Homo sapiens: one gene and its partners. The protein of the gene in region 2 interacts with the protein of the main gene of each other region in a pairwise test. Each region holds a gene or a part of one and is shown on either strand. Other genes may lie near its edges.

Region 1 (4,118 bases), on a different chromosome or scaffold from region 2:
ACACAACGTTTTTACTTACATTTTTGTAAAAATATATTTAACCAGTCAACAAATTAGTGGGTTGGAGGCGGTGGTGTGGATTTAGCATATACCAATGATCTGACTCTCACCTTTGAAGTAAATGTAATTCACCAGCACCATCAAGACGTCCTTCTTGAGCTCACTGACCAAATCCACAATCTTCCCTCGAGTTTCCTTCTTGACGTGGTCGTTGATAAGCTGGATTGTGCCCACAGTGTCGTAGAAGTTGGTGTGGAAGAGTTTAGCCTCATAGACGGCCATGGTGTCATTCAGGAATTTTGCAAGGAACTTCAGGTTGTGGCTCAGGAACAGAGCACTGCCCACGCGTGTTTCCAGCCCATGGCCGGGGAGGTTGAGAGTGTGCAGGAGGTGCTGGAAGCCCCTATGGACATCGGACTCAGACAGCTCGGTGAGGTTGAAGCCCAGGCCCTCAAGGATCTGGCTGCGGCTGTGTGAGCAGGCCCCCAGGGAAAGCATGGCGTAGGCCGCCGAGATGCTCAGCGGGGAGAAAAAGATGTTCTTCCCCGGGGTCTCCGAAGCGATCAGGTAGTAGAAGCGGAAGGCAAAGTCAGCATTGGCAGGGGCTATCTTGAGGCTGGGGGAGCCCTCACCTGTCTCCAGAATCTGCTGGTGGGAGCTGTTACTGCAACTCTCACCATCATGCTCAACGTGCAGCTGGCCATGAGAAAGGGCCAGTAGTCCAACCAGCAGGAGGAGCAGGTAGTCGATAAGATGCATCCTCTGCACTCTCAGGCCTATGGGAGGGAAGAGAATGCCCAGGAAATTCCCCCAGAAGAACACCTGGCCCTACTGAGAAGGCTGGCAGTGGGCCAGCACCCGGAGATCGTGAGTGACACCCTCAACTCCTGCAGATGGGCTTGTGAAAGGCAATGTAACACCCACCACCTTCCACATGTATGGTGACAGCAACACTATTGGATGGCAATGTTTTAGACTTACAAGGCACACTCCTTGTGTCCATCATGTCATTGTGTTTCCCACCTGTGTGAGCTCTGCACAGCACTAGACTCCATTCTCACCCAACAGAGCAGGAAATGAAGACTCCCAAAGTGACTCACCCAAGTCACCTACCTAGCACATATCCCAGCCAGAACCCACATCCCCAGACTCAGGTGCTGCTTCTCCCACACTTGTCTTTCAGATGAGTTGATTTCATTAGTGCAGTGATTTTGCATGGAGGATGGCTATCCTCAGAGTTTATTTTAGGGTCTGTTCCACAAACATCTGTGGAGTGCTTTATATGGTTTACAAACCACTTTCAGCCATTTAGTTTGACCCTCCCACCCCTGTAGAGGTCAGTAGAACTGGTCTTTGTATTGTTACCCCGTACAGACAAGGACATGGATGTTTAATAAGTGACCTGCCCAAAGTTGTGGGGATAGAATTGGTACCCGTTTCATAATGAACATCTGTCCAAGAAAGGATACTCCAGTTTCTCCCCCAAATCTGCTCCTGCCCCATCAAATGGTCCCACCAGTATCCGGTTGTCAGGCCAAAAAGCTTCTAGGCTTCTATCCACCCAAAATCCATTTAATCCACTTCCATGACCTGCAGGGTTGGGTTTTTTTTGTTTGTTTGGTTGTTTGTTTGTTTGTTTGAGACAGGGTCTCACTCTGTCACCCAAGCTGGAGTGCAGTGGTGTAATCATGGCTCACTGCAGCCTTGACTTCCTGAGCTCAGGTGATCCTCCCACTTCACCCTTCCAAGTAGCTGGAACTACAGGCATGCACCCTTCCAAGTAGCTGGAACTACAGGCATGCACAGCCACACCCAGCTAATTTTTTATAGAGTTGGGGTCTCACCATGCTGCCCAAGCTGGTCTCCAACTCCTAGACTCTCCTGTAGGTTCTTCAGCCTCTCGCCCCCTCTTTTGCTATGATCCTCAACCAGGGCTCAGAAAACTTTTTCTGCAAAGCGCCAGATAGTAATATCTGTGGTTTTGCAGACCACACAGTCTCTGCTGCCACTACCCAACTCTGCTGTGGCAGCTGGAAACAGCCACAGACCGGACATGCATGAAGAGGCGTGGCTGTGTTTCAGTGAAACTTCACTTACGGACACTGAAATGTGAATTTCATATTATTTTCCTGTGTCACAAAATGTTGTTCTTCTATTGATTTTTCATAGCTTTATATATTTATCTTTTATACTTATCACTTATATTTTATATTTATATTTTACATCTTGCATTCTTAGCTCATGGGCGGTGGGCCGGATTTGACCTACAAGCTGTGGTTTGTTGACCCCTGACCTAGACCCTTGCAGAAAGCTTCCTAGTCTTTCTGCTCTCTGTTCTCCACTCAGCAGTTGGAGGGATCATTTAGAAACATACATAGGACCGCATCACTCACAGACACACCTCCCCTCCGGCATGAGCTCCCCAAGATCACCTGGATTGGCAGCCAGAAGACCTTGGCCCTCAGTCAGTGCCGCCCTGTACCAGCTGTGTGTCCCTGGGGGAGGCTTTTCTGGGTCTCCGGGCATAGTCACCCACCAGTGCCCATGGACCCTAAGTCGGGGCCTTTCTAGCCTGAGTATTTCTCACCTCTAGCAAGAGTGACAAAGTGTCCCAGCTTGCCTGGGACTTTCCTGGTTTTAGCACTGAAAATATATCCCAGAAGAATTATCAGTCTTGGGCAAAGTGGAACAGTTGGTCACCCTCCCTCTAGAGTCTCTCGTCTCCATTGTCTCAGGGGGTTACTCACGGCACAGTCTGTCCTGGAGTGGACCCCCTGGGTGGCTGTCTCAGCTCTGTCTTATCAAGCCCAGGAGGACTGGTCAAACCAGGCCTTCTCAGTACCACCCACTCTCTCCCGACCAGGTAATTATTAACAAACAGGCTACGGGTGCAGCATTGCCTCAACAAGGAAAACTCACCAGAAGTTGGTTCACCCCCTCCCAAGAAGACACCCCACTTCCCACCTGGGGAACCCCAAGAGGGTTCACTTCTTCATGTTTGTGCAGTGCATGGAGGTTCGCCTGGCCCTTGCTGCTCCCCGAGGGCCCGGGGAACCACTTGGAAAATCTGGTCTCCAACCAGCCCCTCACTAGCTGTGTGAAGTTGAGCTCATTTACTCCCTCTCTGAGCTTCAGTCGCCCACCTCCCTCCTACAACATGAGGGGCTGGATCAGACAGGGGGCAGCAAGCTCCAGCGCCGCCTTCCTAGATCAGGTAAGGAAGACTCCATGGTGCCACGGTGGGGAATGGTGGGGATGTGTGGAAGTGAGAGAGCCAGCTCTCTACAGGCCAGGCAAGACCCACCTGTGGGCAGGGCCTCACAGCAGGGCCTCCAGTTTGCAATCCTGGACTCTGTGATTTCTGAGGATAGAGTCCACTGAGATCTCATAGGTCAGACCATAAGGAGAGTACATCCCAGGGCAAGGGTGGCATGGGGTGGGACCAGGAACCTCCTTGGGCCAGGTATTCAATTTGCATTTTTCTTCTTTAACCATGGAATTGAACTTGTTCTCTCCCCAGTAATCAGTGAACCCCTGCACCCTTGCACCCTTGCACCCTCCTGGGGCAGCCATTTCTCAAGCTATGTGGGGAAGGACTGCAGGGAGCAATGTGGCCCTGGGTGCCCTGACTGAGATGACCTTGACCATTCAGGCATCCTCTAGCAGACTTTCTGGATGTGTTTCCAAGTCGTTGGGCCTTAAGGTAAGTGAAATATACACCACTGAGCAGCACAGTGGGCTGGGAGCCCTGAGCGATGTAGACATGGGGATGGCAGAGCAGGCACAAGCACAGCCCTGGAGCCAGCTGGCCTGAGGTCCAAAATGGGTCAACACCAGGACAAGAGAGGAAGCTAGCAGGTCAGGCAAAGTGAGAGCTACTGTCTCAGTGGATTCTCGCTTTCCCTCACTCATCTCTCTCTTTCCCTTGCCTATACACTCTAGGTATACTAAGCTTGGCCCATTTTACACATGAGAAAATGTAAGCCCGGAGACATTGTTAGCTCAGATTCCAGAGTCAGGGTCTGCTCCGTGGCCACTGAACATGAAGCCCATATTCCTTCCCAGCATCTGCTGCTTCTCCACTTGGACAGACTTTTCCTGCCACCGGAATAGCAGCT
Region 2 (3,500 bases):
TGTTCTAACATTAACCTTCACCAATTATTTGACTTAATAAGAATGATTTTATTTTTGTAGAGACAGTAAAATGATTTTTTTAAAAAAGAAAGGTACTATTTACATTCCTTATTTTCTTTTCCTTAAAGTTTCAGACTTGAGAAGTCTGAATATTAGGTTCAGCATAAGATCCAGGCCAGATGCCAGGCAAATACTGCAATAGCAAAGGCAAAGCAGACCTGGTGGAGACTGCAAATGGAGACCTCAGTACCCACCTAAAAGGGTCAACCGCTACTCAGCTCTGGCAATCTAGTCTCAAGCAGGAATGGCCACCAGGTATAGCCAAGTCCTGTGGGTTTTCTAGAGATGCTAGAAGTTGAGACTTCTTAAATATGAAATCTTCCTATTGGCCGCGAGGTGGCTCACGCCTGTAATCCCAGCACTTTGGGAGGCCAAGGCAGGCGGATCACCTGAGGTTAGGAGTTCGAGACCAGCCTGGCCAACAGAGTGAAACCCCGTCTCTACTAAAAATACAAAAATTAGCCAGGCATGGTGGTGTGTACCTGTAACCCCGGCTACTGGGGAGGCAGAGGCAGGAGAATCACCTGAATCCGGGAGGCGGAGGTTGCAGTGAGCCAAGATCACACTACTGCACACCACCCTGGGTAACAGAGCAAGACTCCATCTCAAAAAAAAAAAAAAAGAAAAAGAAAAAGAAAAGAAATCTCTATTCTTAAATGGTGACAATTATCAAATATTCCAAATACTCTAAGGGCAAGCAGTATATATCTGTGGGTTGGATTCTCACCAATGGCCACTTGCTACTGCAGACTCACAGTTAAAAATCTCTACATATAACTGATGGTGCACTACACAAACAATATACCTTTACCACCACTGCCCCTCACCCTGCAGAAGAAAAAAAATGAGAACCATGAAAAGAAACTCCAAAAAATTATGGAGTACTAGTGACAAACTTCTTTAATTTAACCTTTTCTCTCTCGAAAAAGAAATCTGTTAACAGTTTTAGATATAGAAACTTTTATAGTAGAGAAATAGAGAGGAAGAATTTTTTTTATTTTTATAATTTTCTCAAAACTTTCAAAAATATTCAAATAAATAGTACAAATTACATAAACATTTCCAGCCTCAACCAAACTAATGAAAATGCTCAGTAATAAAAATGAGACTAATGATTCACCACGTACACAGAAAAACAAGGTACAAAATACTAATTAATAGTGTTAATTTATTTGCACTGGTGTATCTACATATTGTCATTTGACTCTTTTGTGATCAATAGCACAAAACTGGGAACAAAGTTGAACTAACTTCCTGACCATGGAACACTCGAGTAACAAGCCACTTGTGGACTCAATCCTGTGACCTAAACCCCCTTAATACCATGCTATCCATAACTAAGGGGACCAGTTACTCATAGTCAGTATTTAGTCCAACATTTCTTCAATACTTTTACAAAAGATAAATATTATTTGAAAATGTCTTTAAGGCTTTTCCTTCCACTTAAAAATATGAATATCTACATTCAGGAATAGGAATTTATAGAGAACACTTGAATTTCACCTCTAAAATTGCTTAACCTACTGCTAGAAGCCCTTATAAAGTTAAAATAAAATTCTTAATATAATTAATCGTGGTAGGCTTGATTTGGAGTTCAAAACATTCTGTAAAATAGTCATTTAACAAGGGAGATTCTCTAACCAAAAGAATTAGTAGACAATTTAGTGCTAGTAAAATATTACAGTTATGGGCACAGGGGACTACGTATTTATCGAACACTTACTATGCCCAAGTACTGTGACGAATACATCAAGGTATTCATTAAATCTTAAAAAAAAAAAAACAATCATATGAGGAAGGTACCATTCCTATCCCCATTTTACGGATGGGGAAACTGACCTTTCCAAGAATACCCAGCTAGTAAGTGGCAGAGTCAGGATTCCAACCCAAATCTTGTCTAACTTCAGAATCTGCACGCTTAACCACTACACTGCATTGCCTCCAGTGACTCTGGGTTGATAACTAAGATGAAATAAGAAGGAAATTTGTACTTCTCAGTGGCAAATTTTAAAAACATATTATAAATGGAGGGTATTTTTTAGAACATGAACAAGTTTCATATACATAGTCATACAATTTTTATTTCCAAATACATGTAGTAATGGTGAAAATCCCACACAATGAATTTCTCACAATTTTTCATAAGTACTCAATCATGGTGTTTTTTTTTTTTTTAGACAGGGTTTCGTTCTTGCTGCCCAGGCTAGAGTGCAACGGCAGATCTCGGCTCACTGCAACCGCCCCCTCCCTGGTTCAAGCAATTCTGCCTCAACCTCCAGAGTAGCTGGGATTACAGGCGCCCGCCAACACGACCGGCTGATTTTTTTTTTTTAGTAGAGACGGGGTTTCACCGTGTTGGCCAAGCTAGTCTCGAACTCTGACCTCAAGTGATCCACTCGCCTTGGCCTCCCAAATTGCTGGGATTAGAGGCGTGAAGCACCACCCCCAGCCCAATCGTGTTTATTACTAAAAATTTAATGGGAACACCCTGTATTTTCCCCTCAATTTTGCTGAGAACCTAAAACTACTCTAAAAAACAGTCTATTGGGCCAGGCGCGGTGGCTCACACCTGTAATCCCAGCACTTCGGGAGGCAAGTGGATCACCTGAGGTCAGAGTTCGAGACCAGCCTGGCCAACATGGCAAAACCCTGTCTCTACTAAAAATATGAAAATTAGCCAGGCCTGGTTGCGGGCACCTGTAATCCTAGGTACTCAGGAGGCTGAGGCAGGAGAATCGCTTGAACCTGAAGGCGGGGAGGGGCGGGGCGGAGCTTGCAGTGAGCCGAAAACACGCCACTTCACTCCAGCCTGGGCGAAACAGCGAAACTCCATCTCTCAAAAAAAAAAAAAAAAAAAAAAAAAAAAAAAAGAAGTCTACTAAAAACAGTTTTTTTTAACTACAATATCCTAAATATACCTAATTTAGTTATAAACTAGCATAAGACTAGATTCTTTCAGTATGAAAAGTTGCATTGTTTTTCATAACCATTGTACCAAGCATGCTATTAGCATTTAATAAAAATTGAACTATTTTTTTCAAAAGCAGTGCTGTAATATTGTTTTTTTGTTTGTTTGTTTGTTTTGAGACGGGGTTAAGCTCTTATTGCCCAGGCTGGAGTGCAATGGCAGGATCTCGGCTCACTGCAACCTTCGCCTCCCGGGTTCAAGCGATTCTCCTGCCTCAGCCTCCTAAGAAGCTGGGATTACAGGCACCCGCCACCACGCCAGGCTAATTTCGTATTTTTAGTAGAGACGGGGTTTCTCCATCTCGGTCAGGCTGGTCTCAAACTCCGGACTTCAGGTGATCCACCCGCCTCGGCCTCCCGAAGTGCTGGGATTACAGGCGTGAGCCACCGCGCCCAGCAAAATTGGAATTAACACTCCCAGAATACTCCCAGGGACTCTGCATTACAAAGACATTAAAATATGAACCAAACTC
Region 3 (3,500 bases), on a different chromosome or scaffold from region 2:
GTGGACAGAGCTTGTTAGAGTGTCCTAGAGCCAGGGGGAACTCCAGGCAGGGCAAATTGGGCCCTGGATGTTGAGAAGCTGGGTAACAAGTACTGAGAGAACAAAAGCTTGTGGGTCAGCAGGCCCCACAAAGATGTGACTGCAGACAGGATCGGCCCTGGGAGAGACCGAGGCTCCAGGTGACTCCTATAGCAAGGCAGTGAGGGGGCGGGTCTGGGGCTCCAGTTCAGGAATACATAGTCAGCTGCAGCCACTGGGGAGAGGAGGGTGGAGAGTGAGGACAGGGAACCCCAAGAGCACCAGCCCCTTTGCCCTCACCCAGGGACGGCTGGCAAAATAGGAGGAAGGGGACTGCAGCTCAGAGCTGGTATGAAGGGCTGAGGGGTGGGGTCCTCCCAGGCACCCATACCCCAATATGGGGGTCCTTACCTCCTGGATGTTCACCTGGATTTGTCCAGTGCCATCTTTGTCAAGAGATTTGAAGGCACCTGGAGGAGGAGATGCAGAGGTTTGGCGGCAGGGAAGGAAGGAGACTGGTTTTTGGCATAATAACATTACACAAATACATGGGATGACAATCATAGCAGCTGGCACTTCACTGAGTATTTACTGTGTGCCAAGCATGGGGTAAAGTGCTTTCCAGGTATTGGCTGATTTAATCCAACTCTGTGAGATAAGTGTCATTTTAAAATGAGGCACAGGCTGGGCGTGGTGGCTCACACCTATAATCCCAACACTTTGGAAGGCCAAGATGGGAGGATCACTTGAGCCGCCCAGGAGTTCGAGACCAACCTGGGCAACAGAGACCTCATCTCTGCTTTTTAAAAAAACTAAAAATTAAAAACAGGAAAAAAAGAAATGAGGCAGGAAGGGAGGGGCCATGCCCCAGGTCACATAGCAAGAAAGTGAAGAAATCAGGATTGGAATCCAATCTGTTACCCTCCTCAATAATGGCCTCTGTGTACTGATATCACCTCTGCCCAGCCCCAGCCTCCTACTGACATCTATGCTCCATCCTCTCCAGTTCTAAGCCTAACAGGCTACTAGAGGGAGGCTCTGCACACTCTACTTCCTGCCCCTAGAGTCTTACAGGTAGGTCCCCACGCCTGCCCTGAAACTTGACTCCATGTTCCCCACCCACAGGGAATCTAGACATGATGACTACACTATCTCCGCTCAGTTACCACCACCCTCAGGTGTCCATACCCACAGCGTCCTGCACACCCTGGCTGCCTTTCTTTCTTTTTTTTTTTGAGACAGAGTCCCACTCTGTTGCCCAGGCTGGAGTGCAGTGGCACGATCTTGGCTCACTGCAACCTTTGCCTCCCAGGTTCAAGTGATTCTCCTGCCTCAGCCTCCTGAGTAGCTGGGACTACAGGCGTGCACCACCACGCCTGGCTAATTTTTTTGTATTTTTAGTAGAGACGGGGTTTCACTATGTTGGCCAGGCTGGTCTCAAACTCCTGACATCAGGTGATCCGCCCACCTCGGCCTCCCAAAGTGCTGGGATTACAGGAGTGAGCCACCATGCCCAGCCCTTTTTTTTTTTTTTTTAGACGGTGTCTCTGTGGCCCAGGCTGGAGTCCAGTGGCAAGATCATAGCTCACTGCAGCCTCACCCTCCCGGGCTCAAGTGATTCTCCTACCTCAGCCTCCCGAGCAACTGAGACCACAGGCATGTGCCACCATGCCCGGCTATGTCTATATACATATATTTTTTTTTTTTTGTAGAGATGGAGTCCTACTACATTGCCCAGGCTGGTCTCAAACTCCTGGACTCAAATGATCCTCCCGACTATCAGCCTTCTTGCTGGTAGATCCAGTGGCTATTTCCTGGCCCCTCTTATGTGACTTGTGGCATCAACCTTGTCTGTCCACTCCCTTCACCTCCCTGCTATCTCACATACCTGCTTCTTTTCCTCTGTTACTTTTCATGCATTGTGGGCTCTCTGGAGGCCAAGGGATCTTTTTTTCTTTTTTTTTTTTTGAGATGGAATCTCGCTCTTGTCACCCAGGTTGGAGGCTGGAGTGCAATGGCATGACCTCTGCTCACTGCAACCTCCGCTTCCTGGGTTCAAGCAATTCTCCCTCCCTAAACCTCCTGAGTAGCTGGGACTACAGACACGCCCCCACGCCTGGCTAACTTTTGTATCGTTAGTAGATGCGGGGTTTCGCCATGTTGGCCAGGCTGGTCTTGAACTCCTGACCTCAGGTTTTACGCCCACCTCAGCCTCCCAGAGTGCTGGGATTACAGGCATAAGCCACTGCACCCGGCCTGGAGGCCAAGGGATTTTTTTTTTTTAAGACGGAGTCTCGATCTGTCACCCAGGCTGGAGTGCAGTGGCAGATCTCAGCTCACTGCAAGCTCCGCCTCCTGGGTTCATGCCATTCTCCCGCCTCAGCCTCCCAAGTAGCTGGGACTACAGGCGCCCGCCACCACACCTGGCTAATTTTTTGTATTTTTAGTAGAGATGGGGTTTCACTGTGTTAGCCAGGATGGTCTCGAACTCCTGACCTCGTGATCCGCCCTCCTCGGCCTCCCAAAGTGCTGGGATTACAGGCGTGAGCCACCGTGCCCAGCCGAGGCCAAGGGATCTTTCTAAAGCCAAACCTGACCCTGTCCTCCCTCTGCCTAGAACCTGCCATGGCTCCCCAATGTCTCTGGTAGAGTTTGAGCACCCCCAAACTTGGCACCCACAATCCTGCATGACCTAATCATGCTCACTGCTCCTACCTTCTCTTACTTAGCTCAGATCTCAGATAGATCCAAGTTCAAATTCTGGCTTTACAACTTCCTAGCTGGGTGACTATGAGCATGAAAATTTGCCTCCTTGAATCCTAAGTTCCTCCTTCACAAAATAAGGACAGTAATCCCCACTTCCCAGCCATGTCTTCAGCATTCAGTACACTAACACTCAGAAGGCCACATGCAATGGCTCATGCCTGTAACACCAAAGCTTTGGGAGGCTGAGGTAGGAGGATTGCTGGAGCCCAGGAGTTCAAGACCAGCCTGGGCAACATAGCAAGACCCTGTCTCTACAAAAAATTTTAAAAATTAGCCAGGCATGGCGGTGTGTGCCTGTACTCCCAGGTATTCGGTAAGCTGAGGCAGGAGGACTGCTGGAGCCTAGGAGTTGAGGCTGCAGTCAGCCATGATCATGCCACTGCACTCCAGCCTGGGCAACAAGAGCAGCAGACTCTGTCTCAAAAAAATAGAAAGAAAGAAATCTAACAAAAAGCATCAGAAGCCCCATCTTCTTTCCCTTCTAGGCCTTTGCACAGGCTGTTCCCTCAGCCTGCAACAGTATTCCCTACCTTCTCACTAAGTTCTCTCCTCATCCCCTCAGGTCTCAATGTTCCCTCTCCAGTGAGCCCTCCCTGACCCCTTGGGCTGCATCAGGTTCCTCCTGGATTGGATTTGCCCTCTAGGCTTCCCCAAGCACAATCTGAGCACGCTCTGCTCACTCTTCCCCTCACCAGAGCCCTAGACCCTCGGCCTGT
Region 4 (3,500 bases), about 63 Mb from region 2:
TGTTAAAAATTATTAACAATTTCAAAATGATGACTGCAGAGCATTAAACCAAACATAGGCCCTTCTAAGCATGGGGCCCTCAGGAGGATGAGTACTCATGAAGCCATCTCTGTGCCCTGGACTAAAGGGGAGGCCATCTGTCTGTCTCCATCGATTTATCCATCCATCCATCCATCCATCCACCCACCCACCAATCCATTTATGCATCTCTACATGCATTTATTTATCTAGTGATTATTTCACTATCCATTCAGCAGATAGGCCCTGGGTTGGACACTGATAAGGACACAAATACAGGTGAGATGGGAGCCACCCACAGTCCACCAGGTCAAACCTGCACCTTTACCTTCAATGCTCTGGGCCAGGAGGGGCCAGGGCTTCTGTGACATGTTTAGAAAGCTGAGCCCTACCCCTCTAAGGCTAACTGGAAACCCTGCCCCACCCTATAACCACTGAGGCTCAGCCTCAGAAGTGAAGAAGCTGGTGGTGTCACTGCCCTTGGGTTTCCACTTCTCAGAAGGGAAGGTAACAGAGCAGCAGCAATGAGGATGTGGCAAAACAGTCACAAGAAGCATGGTAGGAACTCTCAGGGGCTAAGGGCAGAGCTGGATGGACCTCTGGGGGCCACTAAACTTCTCCCTTGGCTTCTCCCCACTTTATTATAAGAGGAAACTATGATTAGAATGAAGAAGTGGTATGGCCAAAAGCTCGGGGGTCCAGCAAACCACCCAGGAAGATTCCCATTTCTTGTTGGGACGGCTTTGCTCCTTTTCAGCCCATAGCCCAGACAGACCTGGAGGCTGAGCCCTGAACCACAGAGGTGGAGCTGGGTCTCTCCAGGCCTTCAGAGAGATGGTAAAGACCCAGCACCTGTGGTGGAACAAAGGCGAGCCCAGGTCCCAGGCTCAGCGTCATCACCAATGATCTGTACGGACCTTAGGTGCAACCCTTCCCCTCTCTGGACCTTAGTTCCCATCCATACAATAAAGCAGTTGGATCAGGTGACCCCCAAAAGTCCTTTTCATCTCTGACATTCAGGAACTTTCAGACCCCCTGACCCTCCCAAGGGACAGCCCTCTCCATCACAGGGCGGAGAAGCTGGTACCTCTGGCAGATAAAAGGTTTCAGGCACCTGAGACATCAAATAGCCCTGATCTGAATTGAGGAGAGGAGGGGATTTTAATGCGGTTAAAGCAGTACACTTTGATTTTCAGCCTCCTGCACCAGGCTGGGGGTGGGCTACCCCAGGAAGCATCTGGTGGATGTAGGGGGCGGGGGCAGGGTGGGCTCTGGGGCTAAGGCTTGGAGGTTCAGGAAGACTTTATCCTGAGGATCTGGGCCTGAGGGCTCAGGAGGGATGTGAAGTGGGCTTCCACACTGGAAGCAACAAGCATGGGAATTTCACACCCACTCCCACCAGAGGTAGGTCCCTGTGTCCATTCCCCCCCTCACCTCTGGATCCCATCACTCATCTGGGCCAAAGCCTTGCTTCCTCTTGAAATTAGAGCATATGAGGTTTGAAAACGCAGCACTGGAAGAGACCTAAAGGGTTACAGCATCCACACACAGCCCCTAGTGGGCCTTCCTCCCCGACCCTCCCTGCTCAGTATCTCAGGAAAATGGGCATGTGGGAACTGTAGGAGCCCTCTGAGCTCCTCAAGAAACTGAGCACGTTAAGGGGCCACACTAATTGTCAGAAAGTTCCTCATTGTTATTGCAGGTTAAAGTTTTCCATTAGTGGTCATCGATCCTGACCTCTTTCTGTAATGTGTAGAAAAAGGGTAAGAAAAAAACCCTTTCATTGTGAAATTAAATATGCATGATCCCTGAGTACACAGCAAGGCTTGTGCAGCTGCCAATCTGGGCTGGCATGGCTTGGAATCCTGAAATTGTTTTAGGGCTGGAAGAAAGATTTACCATCATCTGGGTCAACCTCCTCGTTTGACTGATGGGAAAACTGAGGCCCCAGAAGGGAACGATCTGTGCACAGTCCCATAGGGTTCTAGGGTCTGATGACTACCTCTGGAATGCTGAGGGCCCCCACAGCTGAGGCACATTCTCAGGGTTTACACTGGATCCCCAGGGGCATCCCAGGCCCCATCCAGCCTCTCATCAAGGGGATCTGGAGTCAGAAACACCCAGGTGCAAATCCCAGCTCCGCCACTTCCGAGCTGTGGGACTTTAGGCAACTGACTCTGCGCACTTTCTCACCTGTAAAATGGGGAGAGTTTAGCTGGGTGCGGTGGCTCACGCCTGTAATCCCAGCACTTTGGGAGTCTGAGGCAGGCGGATCACTTGAGGTCAGGTAGTTCGAGACCAGCCTGGCCAACACGGTGAAACCCCATCTGTACTAAAAATATAAAAATTAGCTGGGCATGGTGGCGCACACGCCTGTAATCCCAGCTACTTGGGAGGCTGAGGCAGGAGAATCACTTGAGCTTGGGAAGCGGAGGTTGCGGTGAGCCAAGATCATACCATTGCACTCCAGCCTGGGCAACAGAGTGAGACTCCATCTCAAAAAAAAAAAAAAAAAAAAGTGGGGAGAGTTTATATATCTAATTTTGAGGTTGCTGTGACGGTTTATTTATTTATTTATTTATTTTTTTTGAGACAGTCTTGCCCTGTCGCTTAGGCTCACTGCAATCTCCGCCTCCTGGATTCAAGCAATTCTAGTGCCTCAGCCTCCTGAGTAGCTGGGATACAGGTGCGCACCACCACGTCTGGCTAATTTTTGTATTTTTAGTAGAGACAGGGTTTCACCATGTTGGCCAGGCTGGTCTCAAACTCCAGACCTCGGGTGATCCACCCGCCTCGGCCTCCCAAAGTGCTGGGATTACATGTGTGAGCCACCGTGCCCAGCCTCGATGGTTAAATTAATCCAGTAAATATTTACTAAGAATGTCCTGAATGCCCAGCATGTTCCAAGTGCTGAGGAATACAGCAGCAACTTTGAGGTAACAGATGTAAAGCACAATTGAAGTAGACACAGAAAGTGCTAAGAACGAGTTGGTTCCTGTTATATCATCATGCTCACACTGCTTCCCAGCTGAGGTGCTACAAGCCCTGACCCTGGGAAGGGGCCCAACACCCCTTCCCTTCCCTCCTAACGCTCTGGGTCAGAAGACAGGGGGCACCAAAAAGATTCCCATTCCAAGAACCCACTGCCCACTGGGTTCTGAATCAAATGCAAGAAATGGGTGGGCATTTCAGAAGACCTTTTCATCCCTTTCTCCCTTCCCACTGCATTCAGCAGCAGCCTGTTCTGAGCCAATGCCCAGAGCACCCTCCTTTAGCCTAGAAGGCAGCTGGTCTCAGAGTCAGACTGTGGCCTGTGCCTGGAGGATGGACACGGATCTTTGGAACATACATGGTGTCCAGGTCCCTTCTGTGGGCAGAGCCTTTTGCAGGTTGCAGATTAATTTCACAGCCAAGTGTTCCAATGCAGGAGGCCAGGAGAGCAGTGGTTCTCTCAGCCAGTGGCCAGAGGTCCAGCTGTGAAG

What was found. The genes of interacting proteins can lie anywhere in the genome.
Region 1: the proteins of RASA1 (region 2) and SERPINA4 interact in a two-hybrid assay, tested with the Homo sapiens proteins (one large-scale study listed by BioGRID and IntAct).
Region 3: the proteins of RASA1 (region 2) and CAPNS1 interact in binary tests that used the Homo sapiens proteins (3 or more experiments, as listed by UniProt).
Region 4: the proteins of RASA1 (region 2) and PDGFRB interact in binary tests that used the Homo sapiens proteins (3 or more experiments, as listed by UniProt).

The regions. Positions count from the first base shown.
Region 1 is NC_000014.9:94,560,124-94,564,241, reverse strand, and holds the start of SERPINA4 (kallistatin isoform 2 precursor), read right to left. Parts: upstream 2,801-4,118; 5' UTR 2,748-2,800; exon of another isoform or gene 2,527-2,747; coding exon of another isoform or gene 2,433-2,526; intron 777-2,432; coding exon of another isoform or gene 760-776; coding exon 111-759; intron 1-110. UniProt on the Homo sapiens protein: Inhibits human amidolytic and kininogenase activities of tissue kallikrein.
Region 2 is NC_000005.10:87,270,883-87,274,382, reverse strand, and holds part of RASA1 (ras GTPase-activating protein 1), read right to left. Parts: intron 1-3,500. UniProt on the Homo sapiens protein: Inhibitory regulator of the Ras-cyclic AMP pathway. Stimulates the GTPase of normal but not oncogenic Ras p21; this stimulation may be further increased in the presence of NCK1.
Region 3 is NC_000019.10:36,146,566-36,150,065, reverse strand, and holds part of CAPNS1 (calpain small subunit 1), read right to left. Parts: intron 489-3,500; coding exon 430-488; coding exon of another isoform or gene 254-429; coding exon 227-253; 3' UTR 1-226. UniProt on the Homo sapiens protein: Regulatory subunit of the calcium-regulated non-lysosomal thiol-protease which catalyzes limited proteolysis of substrates involved in cytoskeletal remodeling and signal transduction. Essential for embryonic development.
Region 4 is NC_000005.10:150,149,346-150,152,845, forward strand, and holds part of PDGFRB (platelet-derived growth factor receptor beta isoform 1 precursor), read right to left. Parts: exon of another isoform or gene 2,994-3,500; intron 1-2,993. UniProt on the Homo sapiens protein: Tyrosine-protein kinase that acts as a cell-surface receptor for homodimeric PDGFB and PDGFD and for heterodimers formed by PDGFA and PDGFB, and plays an essential role in the regulation of embryonic development, cell proliferation, survival, differentiation, chemotaxis and migration.